Homo sapiens: one gene and its partners. The protein of the gene in region 1 interacts with the protein of each later gene in a pairwise test. Each region holds a gene or a part of one and is shown on either strand. Other genes may lie near its edges.

The links.
Region 2: the proteins of ZNF205 (region 1) and WT1 interact in a two-hybrid assay, tested with the Homo sapiens proteins (one large-scale study listed by BioGRID and IntAct).
Region 3: the proteins of ZNF205 (region 1) and MAPK6 interact in a two-hybrid assay, tested with the Homo sapiens proteins (one large-scale study listed by BioGRID and IntAct).

Annotation. Positions count from the first base shown.
Region 1 is NC_000016.10:3,111,035-3,114,785, forward strand, and holds the start of ZNF205 (transcriptional repressor RHIT), read left to right. Parts: upstream 1-1,551; 5' UTR 1,552-1,648; exon of another isoform or gene 1,649-1,916; intron 1,917-2,314; exon of another isoform or gene 2,315-2,382; 5' UTR 2,383-2,396; coding exon 2,397-2,453; intron 2,454-3,751.
Region 2 is NC_000011.10:32,393,952-32,397,602, reverse strand, and holds part of WT1 (Wilms tumor protein), read left to right. Parts: intron 1-1,195; coding exon 1,196-1,346; intron 1,347-3,651. UniProt on the Homo sapiens protein: Transcription factor that plays an important role in cellular development and cell survival. Recognizes and binds to the DNA sequence 5'-GCG(T/G)GGGCG-3'. Regulates the expression of numerous target genes, including EPO.
Region 3 is NC_000015.10:52,060,662-52,064,312, reverse strand, and holds part of MAPK6 (mitogen-activated protein kinase 6), read right to left. Parts: intron 3,015-3,651; coding exon 2,813-3,014; intron 412-2,812; coding exon 1-411. UniProt on the Homo sapiens protein: Atypical MAPK protein. Phosphorylates microtubule-associated protein 2 (MAP2) and MAPKAPK5.

The DNA of each region.
Region 1 (3,751 bases):
TGGGCGCGGTGGCTCACGCCTGTAATCCCAGCACTTTGGGAGGCCAAGGCAGGTGGATCACTCAAGGTCAGGAGTTCGAGACCAGACTAGCCAACACGGTGAAACCCCGTCTCTACTGAAAATACAAAAATTAGCCCGGCATGGTGATGGGCACCTGTAATCTCAAATACTTGGGAAGCTGAGGCAGGAGAATCACTTGAACCAGGGAGGTGGAGGTTGCAGTGAGCCAAGACCACGCCATTGCACTCCAGTCTGGGCCACAGAGTGAGACTTCATTTCAAAAAAAAAAAAAAAAAAATTAAACCCTCTGGGCATGATGGCTCACACCTGTAATCCCAGCACTTTGGGAGGTGGGAGGATTGCTTGAGATCAGGAGTTCAAGACCATCCTGGGTAACAAAGCAAGACCCCCATCTCTACAAAAAAATTTAAAAAATTAGCCAGGCATGGTGGCATGCGCCTGTGGCCCCAGCTACTTGGGAGGTTGAGGTGAATTGCTTGAGTCCAGGAGGTTGAGGGTACAGTGAGCTATGATCGTGCCACTGCACTTCAGCCTGGGTAACAGAGCAAGACCCTGTCTCAAATAAGTAAATAAATAAACAAACAAACCCTTAAAAGCCCACACAACATAGCACGAGCTGGTACAGAGGCAGCTGGGCCCATCTTACTGTGTGAAGCTGTGCACCTCAGGGGATTCTGGTGAGCCAAAGACAGTGGCATGGGGACGTTTCCTAGGGAAACTTCCTGGAATCTGATTCCAGGACTGGGCCCCTGGCCCTTTTCCTGACACCCAGCCCCCATGCCTGCCCAAGAGAAATGGTTCCTTCCCCCAGAAAGTAAAGCACAGTCTCTGTCCTCTCTATTTGAGGCCTTACTTCTCAGGGTCTAAAGGGAAATGGTGCCTGAGAGGCAGAATCTGCAGCTGCCAGGCGTGTTTGAGAACTTAGAACCCCATTTATAGCTGGATCACACCCTCTATCCCCAAGCTGAAATGGGCCTGGAAGAATCGGATTAACCAACTTCTTCCCAAGGTGTGGGGCATCCGGATTGGGGGGAGTTCCCAGCCTGTTTCCCAAGTTCACTCTTAGGGAGAGAGTTCTGTGCCAGTCTTGGGGGGACCCAGAGGGCCCTTGACTAGGAGTCCCTAAATGAATTCAGGGTCCCTCAGGAGACAATAACCTTCAGAAACCCCGAGTGCTAAAATAAATGGTCCTGCCCTCTCCACCCTGCAAAATGCCCTTCTTTCTACCTGTGAGGACAACTGCAGTGCTCGCTTTGAAATTTCAAATAACACAATCTTTCCACAAAATGCATCTTCCATTTTTCTGTTTTGGTGGCTCTGCCTTGCTGGCATCATGAACGCGTCCTGGGTAAAGCCATCCTCATGAGCTGGCATTGCGGCTCTGGGAGTCACCTCCCGGCCAAGAGCAGGTGCAACCCAGGCTCGAGACTCCACACCCGGAACCCTCAAAACCGGGAACGCTGTAGGGCTGCGGCTGCATGGGGAATGGGATCTGGGAGGGACTTCCTGTCTTCCCTACTCCCAGTCTCCACCCAACTCCCCCGCCCGCCCCGTGCAGGCTGTGGAGACTCCCTTCCCGGGGGAGGGGGCCCCCACTGCCGCAGGTGCCCCCTCTGCCTCCACCCCGGTGAGAAGGGGGTGCTGGGGAGGGCATCTGGATCCCGAGACCGGCGCAGATGATCAGCTTGCAGGAGGGGATGGGGTCAAAGGTGGAAGGCTTCAAGCTGGCAGGAGAGAAGGGGGCCAGGACCGGGTTTGGGAAGGAGAAGGACATTGTCTGCCAGGACCGAGAGCAGGATGGGCATCCCAGGCCTGGGGCAGGTGGTTGCAGCTGCAGGGGGGCTGCTGAGAGCGGGCAGGTTGATTTCTGAATTCCTGGTGGGCATGGGAGTCAGGTAGGGACACACGGTGTATGTCCTGGGGTCGGGGGACAGCAGGTCCTGGATTACCCTGGCCTTGACGGGCGGGGCCCCACCAGCACCTGTTCTGCAGGATCTCTGCAGAACTTTCTGCTCCTGATGACAGGAAATAGCGATTCCAATTTAGCCTCGGCTTTCCCTGAGCCGGTTACACTGAGATGCGAGGCTCTTGCTTCAGCAATAAAGGGGACAATACAAAATAGCATTCTTTCAAAAATAGGACCCAGAAAACATCACAGAGAGTGGGACCATCGGATAGGATCTGGGAGACTTTCTTTCCGATTGGGACCAGGGAGCGCTGGTACTCGTGGGGATTTTCAGGGCTCTTTGGGGGTGTCCAGGAAGCGAGGGCTGGTTTCTGTCTGCTCTTCTAGGCTCCTGGCCAGAAGCTGGAGGGGGCTTGGCCAAAAAGAGGGAGAAACAACTCAGCTGTTCTTTCTAGCTCTGAAATAGAAAATGTCTGCAGACGGCGGAGGCATCCAGGACACCCAGGACAAGGAGACACCCCCGGAGGTACAGATGGGGCTGGCTGAGGGAGGTGTGCGGTAGAAGAGGCTGGTGCGGAGGAGATTTTCAAGGCACAGAGTCTGGACCCCTGGAAGAGTTAGACTCACTGGGGTGGGGAGATCAAAGAGAAGGTGGCATGCTGGGTAGTACCCTCTGTCTGGAATTTACAGCATAACAGTTTTGCTTTGCTGGTGAATTCTCTAGCCAGTGGCCACAGGAGATGGAAGAGGTCTGGGTGGAGGTCCTATCAGTGAGGTTTTCTTTCTGAGCAGCGCTCAGAGCACACAGGGAAACCTGTTCTCCTTCCCCGTGCTTCTCCACCTGGAACCACAGCTTCTCATCTCTGTGGGTCTGAGCTCCCGGTCCTTTCTCCTTCCTGTACCTGCTACCCGTGTGTGTGTGCGTGCGTGGTTGAGTGTGTGTGTGTAATTACTATTTGTGGGGGACCTGGGTCTCCGGGCTTGGAGTTGGAGGAGTATGAGTCAGCGACAGGCCAGGGGCCAGTCCCTGGCCTCTGGGAACCAGATGTGTCATCTGTAAAATGCAGACCACATGCCTGCCATTTCCACCTGTCTCGCAGGGTCACTGGGAGGCTCTAAGGATAATAGGCATGAGACGCCATCATCTATGGTTTTCATGCCATAGAAGCACAAAGAATTGTTAGCATGGTTCAGTTTCCCATCCACTTCCCGTGTGCCTTGAACACCTTGGGCATGTCAGTAGAGCCCCACATGTTGGCATTCTCTGCTGGCACTGGCTTCTGTCTGGTGCGCACGGCGGGGGGGATTAATGACCAGCGCCACCCTGTGTTTATCCAGGACTTTCCTGAGCTGGCAGCTCCTTCTCCATCATTATCTGCGTGAACCTCATGACCATTCTGTGCAGGGGCAGAGCAGCTGCGTCCTGAAGGCTGCCTGATTGGGGAGGGGTGTCGCTGGGTCTGGCACCCAGGCACTCTGATTCCTGGCCTGAGGTTCTTTCCCTTCAAGACCCAAACACAGACAGGGCGTGGAGGAAGGAGTGTGAGACCCCAGCAGAAGTCCGGCCAGTTCCTGTGCTGTGGATGAGGCCCCACCAGGGCCCTCCCTGACTTTCCCAAAGCTTTTGAGCTATGTGGTCACGGGGCATTGTCTCATCCCCAGCCATGGTGTGTTAGTCTCCCGTGGCTGCTGTAACAAGTTTCCACTCTCTGGGGGGCTGAAAACAACCAGAATTGGCTCTCTCACAGTCCTGGAGGCCTGCAGTCCAAAATCTAGGTGTCAGCAGGGTCACACTCCTTTTGAAAGCTCTAGACTAAGAGGACC
Region 2 (3,651 bases), on another chromosome or scaffold:
CACACCTGTAATCCCAGCACTCTAGGAGGCCAAGGTGGAAGGATCCCTTCAGCTCAAGAGTTTGAGACCAGCCTGAGCAACATAGGGAGACCCTATCTCTACCAAAAAAAAAAAAAAAAATTAGCTGGGCATGATGACTCTCACCTGTTGTCCCAGCTGTTCAGGAGGCTGAAGTGGGAGGATTACTTAAGCTGGTGAGGTCGAGGCTGCAGGAGCCCCGATCGTGCCACTGCACTCCAGCCTGGACAACAGAATAAGATCCTGTCTTAAGAACAAACAAAACCAAAACATGGATGCACTCTTGTGTCAGCATCTCACCGCCTTTGGGGTTGATTTACTCATCTATAAAGGAATGAGGAGAATTTAGTGGCCACTCAGGCACTTGCTCAGCTCCCATTTATGACTCCCTGACCCCAAGAAGAGGAAGGGGAGCTTGCCTCTTTGTTTTCCTCCAGTTCTTATTCTTGGAAGACTGACAACACACACACTGCACTTCCACAAGATAAAGGGGAGCAACAGATGCCCTGCAAAGGACGTGTGCAGAGCACAGAAGGCAGATGGATTCCAGTGCTTTCTGGCCTCACTATTAAAGGTTGTGCTGGCTTCACCATGGCCTTCTGGTGGGTTTTGCTTCCTTTCACAGATGGGATCCCCAAATCCAGGGGCTTCTTCTTCCTTGTTATTTACTTATACTTGGACGATCTGGTCAGTTAGGGGCTCATTCATTATCCCACTTTTTTCTAATAAGGATGTCCCCACCCATTGCAGACTGGCTCTAGGTCATGTGGTCATGACTCCAAGTGGGAGGGAGTAGTTAGACTTTGGGACTTTGGACTTGCAGACATCACTACCTCAAGAGGAGAAGCTGAGAGATAGAATGGATTGGGAGCTCTTCCAGGTACCAGCATTTCTTTTGCAGAGGCTCTGGGACAGCCATTTCATGTAGGTTTCATCTCAACAGCCACTTCTGGTTGCTCAGTAGTGATGATCTTAGAGCACTGCATTGTAGAATGTCCTGATCTAGCATCCATTACTGATGTCTGCCATGGGGATCTGGAGTGTGAATGGGAGTGGTTTTAGGTCTGCACCTGCCACCCCTTCTTTGGATATACTCCAGTGCTCACTCTCCCTCAAGACCTACGTGAATGTTCACATGTGGCTTAAAGCCTCCCTTCCTCTTACTCTCTGCCTGCAGGATGTGCGACGTGTGCCTGGAGTAGCCCCGACTCTTGTACGGTCGGCATCTGAGACCAGTGAGAAACGCCCCTTCATGTGTGCTTACCCAGGCTGCAATAAGAGATATTTTAAGCTGTCCCACTTACAGATGCACAGCAGGAAGCACACTGGTAAGTGTGCCCGCTGTCCAGTCTTGGGCAAACATGGTTCAAGAGCTCCTTTTCCAGGCTCTCACACTGCTAAGGACCCAGGTTATTTCCAGGATGGAAAGTAAGCACTGCTTTGAAAGGTCTGATCCAGGTGTTGTAAAGAGGCTGTGGGGCCATTTTGCATTCTGATTATCTATCCTTTATTACAGAGGTCAGTAAACTGTCTTCCAGAAAGGCAGAGCAGAGTGGTAGAGAGAAAGTGCCACAGAATTAAAGAGACCTGTGTAGGAATCGTGTTGGTGTTAGAATACTATTAGCATTTCTAAGGAGAGAGGAGCTGGCCTGGGAATATAGTCATCAGATGGTTTTAGGAGGTCGATGGGCAAGATCATTGTGAAATTTTAGAAGAGATGGTCCAAAGAAAAACTTACCTGCTTGGGTCAGTAATAATCAACTAGACAGGAAGGGGAAAATTGATTGTTAGTTTGATTTTTTAGTGATCACTTAAAAAAAAAAGGTCAGTCATGGGGGCTCACGCCTGTAATCCCAGCACTTTGGGAGGCCGAAGTGGGTGGATCACCCAAGGTCAGGAGTTGGAGACCAGCCTGGCCAACAAGGTGAAACCCCGTCTCTACTAAAAATACAAAAATGAGCCGGGTGTGGTGGCACGCACCTGTACTTGGGAGGCTGGGGCAGGAGAATTGCTTGAACCTAGGAGGCAGAGGTTGCAGTGAGCTGAGATCTTACCACTGTACTCCAGCCTGGGCGACAGAGCAAGACTCTGCCAAAAAAAAAAAAAAGGAGAGAGAGAGATGATGATTTTTTATCTTTGAAGATACGCCAATGAAACTGGATTTTCCCCCAGGTCAGAGAGGCTGCTTCTGGGAAACAGAGAACTGGCATTGTTTGGTGTTGGCCACCTTGAATGTGGACAGCCATGTCACAGAACGTTTACTCTGGGCCTTGTGGGCACTAGGTGGGAGTGTGGGAGTGTGGTAAAACCCAGGTTTTCCTACAGAGGAGCTACTGCTGCCTTTTCCACAATCGAAGAACAGCATTATTATAGGATCACTGTTGCAACTGTGTTATTACTGCTGATTTTGCTCTTGGGAAGCTGGAGAAAAAAGTGAGCTGCATTCAGATTTCCTTGGACCATTGAAATTTGCTAATTCACTGTGTCCAGAGGATGCAATTCTGGTGTCAATCTGAGTTTGCACTCAGTGGGCCACAGACTTTGAGGCTAAAAAGGAGGGGACCAGTGGCATGTTATGTTTTTACACATTTCCCCAAATGGGATCATTTGAAAAGTGACTGTCAAGGTTATAAGGAAAACGAGAAAGTAAAGTCCTGCCTGAAAAATGCAAGGGAATAAATGAAGGCAATATGGTTGTAGAAACTTTTAGTGAGAGAGAAGCACTTAGAATGCAGTGAGGGTTAGACAACTGTGTGAAGGGAAGGCAGTGAACAAGACAGCCAAAACCCCAGACCCACTGGAGCCTTTAAGAAACTCTTCCTTGCAGAAGATGAGGGCAGGTTGGTATTTAACAATCCTACAGTCCCCCTTGAAAGAGAGCAATATTTTCTTATTTATTTATAACAACAGTACAGACTGTTATATTAAGTACTTTTTGGGTGTCAGGCTCTCTACATGTATATTTCATTTAATCCTCACTCACAAAACATTTATGAAGAGTATAGGATATAGCAGAAAGAGGACTCAAACTCCTTCTTTTTAACTGCAGGTTATAATCCTCCTTCTCAAAGAGTTCCTGGTTTGTTTGGGAGCTAGGATATAAAGAAATGAAAAGTGACTGAGAGAGTACATGATCATGTACTAAATCAGAGACAGGAGGTACCGAGGGGTTTGGAGGGTATCAGTTTGAACTAAGGTCATCCGAGAAAGTTTCTCAGAGGAAGAACAGCTTGGGTTAGCCAGTGGAGGCTGGTAGTTTGGGCAGAGAAAGTGATAGATGAGCAGAAGCTCAAAGGCAGGGGAAGGAAATCAGACTCAATAGGGGTAACATCTTCTCCAGCTCACAGAGGTGAAACATAAGGCACCAACCTGGATACAAATACAAAGAAAGGGGCCAGGTGCAGTGGCTCACACCTGTAATCCCAGTATGTTGGGAGGCGTAGGCGGGAGGATTGCTTAAGGGGTTCAAGACCAGCCTGGGCAATATAGTGAGACCCTGTCTCTAAAAAAAATATTTTTAAAAATTTAGCCAAGTGTGCTGGTGTATGCCTGTAGTCCCAGCTACTCAGGAGGCTGAGGTAGGAGGATTGCTTGTGCCCACGGTTTCGAGGCTGCAGTGAGCTAGGCTCACAC
Region 3 (3,651 bases), on another chromosome or scaffold:
GATTTGCCTTTCTTATCAGATTTTTCTTTGCTTTGTTCTTTCCAATTGGAAAGATCTATAATAAGCTTGGGTTCATAGTAATGGTTAACTTCACTCTCTCTCCAAACTAAGTTATCTAAATATGATGATGACCTCGTTTTGTAGTTACAAGTATGGCTACACTCCAGATCACAATATTTGTTTTCATGATGATCTGAGTATTGCCAACAAGGCTCAGTAGAGTAATTGGTATCAAAAGCAGGATCCTCCAGATACTTTTCCCGATCTCCATCCAAATATTTTCGGGGATCAACTTGTACTTCTTCTTCATCAGTGACATCGGACAGAGCTCTTGGATCAAGCTGAACTTCATCAATATCAAAGTTGTTATGTACAGGCCAATCATGCTCTGAAAACTGACAATCATGATACCTGAAAAAAATCAATACACTAGCGTTATTCTACGTATATGATTTCATTTTCAAATTCACCGAGTACCTTCTATGTGACAGCACTGTGCTAGGTCTATGAGGGGATAATTATAGGAGAGTAAATATGCCTGCCTTGCCCTACCAGAACTTAGTCTTGATAGGAAAGCTCTGTTAATATATTTGGTAATTGCCAATGCAGTATGTAACTTCATTTCCAATTTGTTTTTTGTCCACCAGTTCCATGCAAACAAAAGACTTCATAGCCACAAAATGCAGATCTCAAATCTCAATCAGGTACCTTACAAATGTTTACTCTACAGTAAGGGCAACTAGAAGAGGAGGAGGTTTGCTAAATGTTTACTCTACAGTAAGGGCAACTAGAAGAGGAGGAGGTTTGCTGGAAAACTCATCACCATGAATAGCAAAAATCTCCCTGTGTATACGTGCTGCTGAATGCGCTATCCTATTACTGACATGTATAATCATTGAGGGAAAAGAAAAGAGATTAGATAACTTAGCTAGGTAAAATAGAAAATGCAGGTCAGGTGCAGTGGCTCAGGCCTGCAATGCTAGCACTTCAAGAAGGCCAAGGTGGATGGATCACTTGAGGTCAGGAGTTTGAAACCAGCCTGGCCAACATGGTGAAACCCCCACTACTAAAAATACAAAAATTAGCTGAACATGGTGGCGGGTGCCTATAGTCCCAGCTAGTAGGGAGGCTGAGGCAGGAGAACTGCTTGAACTCAGGAGGTTGCAGTGAGCAGAGAGATGGGCACCATTGCACTCCAGCCTGGCAACAGAGTGAGACTCCGTCTCAAAAAAGAAAAGAACCATTATTTAGGGGGTAGAAATGGACACATGGAGAAAAAAAGTAGTTTGCAGATTTGTGTAAACATACCATACCAATACATCAACATTTGAGGAGGGGGAAAAAAATTTCTTCTTAAAATCTTAAGATTAAAAAGATTGGCATTAGTGGTTCCCAAACTTGGCCATACATCAAAATCACCTGATGACTCTATAAGCTACCATCCTACTCTGAAGCATCAAAATCACCTGATGACTCTATAAGCTACCATCCTACTCTGAAGCAGAATTATATCTAAACTTCCCCAGAAATGTATTTATTTATTTATTTGAAACGGAGTCTTGCTCTGTCGCCCAGGCTGGAGTGCAGTGGTGCAATCTCGGCTCACTGCAACTGCTGCCTCCCAGGTTCAAGTGATTCTCCTGCCTCAGCCTCCTGAGTAGCTGGGACTACAAGAGCCCGCCATCAAGCCTGGCTTATGTTTGTATTTTTAGTAGAGACCGGGTTTCACCACGTTAGCCAGGCTGGTCTCGAACTCCTGACCACAGGTAATTGGCCTGCCTCAGCCTCGCAAAGTGCTGGGATTACAGGCATGAGCCACCGCGCCCAGCCAAACTTTCCTAGAAATCCAATTATTTCACTTTATGAAACATCAAAATATGGATAACATTATACACTAATGTTTAGACCTAAAAAAGTCTCTTTTACTGAACCTATGTTAAGTGTCCCCAAATTAATTGTGTCATTAGGAAAACAGATTCAAATACTGGCTGAGTACGGTGGTTCACGCCTATAATTTCAGCACTGTGGGAGGCCAAGGCAGGCAGATCACCTGAGGTCAGGAGTTCGAGACCAGCCTGGCCAACATAAAATCCCACCTCTACTAAAAATTAGCTGGGTACCTGTAATCCCAGCTACTCGGGAGGCTGAGGCAGGACAGTGAGCTGAGCTTGCATCACTGCACTCCAGCCTGCACTCTAGCCTGGGTGACAGAGTGAGATTCCATCTCAAAAAAAAAAAAAAAAAATCCTGCATCTAATATGAATCAAATACTTTTTATGTTAAGATATAACTACCACTGAGACACTGGAGATACTTTATTGGATATGACTGAGTCTTGTCATCTAACATCTTAAATTTTTGACATTCATAAAATCACAGTTAAAGGACTTTATAAATATGCCTTAATGACTTTGAAAATGTTTCAAAGTAGCATTTAACTTTTCCCATATATCATCTAACCAGTAATTACTTTATTAAATGTTTTAATTAACGGCTATTTATAGATATAAATATTAAGGACCATTACTAAATTTTTCTTTGAGATGGAGTCTTGCTCTATTGCCCAGACTGGAATGCAGTGGCATAATCTCGGCAGCCTCGGCCACTTGGGTTCAAGTGATTTTCCTGCCTCAGCCTCCAAGTAGCTAGGACTACAGGCGCCTGCCACCACACCTGACTAATTTTTGTATCTTTACATTACTAAATTTTTAAGACTTCTACAATGTCTTATACATAATTTTAAAAAAACTCACTACATATGGTCCACTGAAAGTTCAGTAAATATTATTTTTCTAATTTAGGATCAATTTACCTTTCCCAGTTATAAATGTGACTGTGAGTTTCATCCATAAGCAAAATATCATCAACTTCATCTTCAATATGAAAAGGATGGCTTGAAATTGGCTCATCCATTGGAAAAGAATATATGCTCATGTAAGGATGGGAGAGTGCTTCTTCTGCTGTTAACCGATCCATGGGGCTAAATGTCAAAATTTGTTCCAGGAAATCCAGTGCTGCAGAGGAAAAGGTAAAAGTTTTTCAGAAAAGAATTGCTTACCTTTAGAAAAACAGTAAATGTTGATCTCATTTATTTCAATGACTAGCTAAGTGATTACCTTAGCACTACATACTACACAACAGGAAATGAGCATCTTAATTGTACTAATAGGTCCCCATCTTATAAAAGGGAAAAATGGACTACACAATTAAAAAGTTAATTTGTCAGAAATAAAACTTACCTGATTTACAACTTAAAAACGATTTTCTGGCTGAGTGTGGTGGCTCACGCCTGTAATCCCGGCCTAATATATAGGTTTTAATCCTAGCTCTGCAAGTCACTGGCTTAACTCAATTACTAGCACTGTAGTGCTGGATAGGCTACTAAAACTTGATGAACATCAGTTTCTTCATGCATAAAGTAGACATAGATATTTCATAAGGTACAAAAATGAGATGTAATCATAGTGTCTGGTATGTAATAAAAGCCCTTTCCCATCCTTCACTGATGGGAAGTACAACAGTAAAACATCTCTGTTGTACTAATTTCTTGATCTCTGCTTCACATCACACTCCAGCATAGTTCACACACTGACCTTGCACATCTTAGGACTCTGGTTAACCACAAATCCAGTTCTTCCCATAAAATAGTCT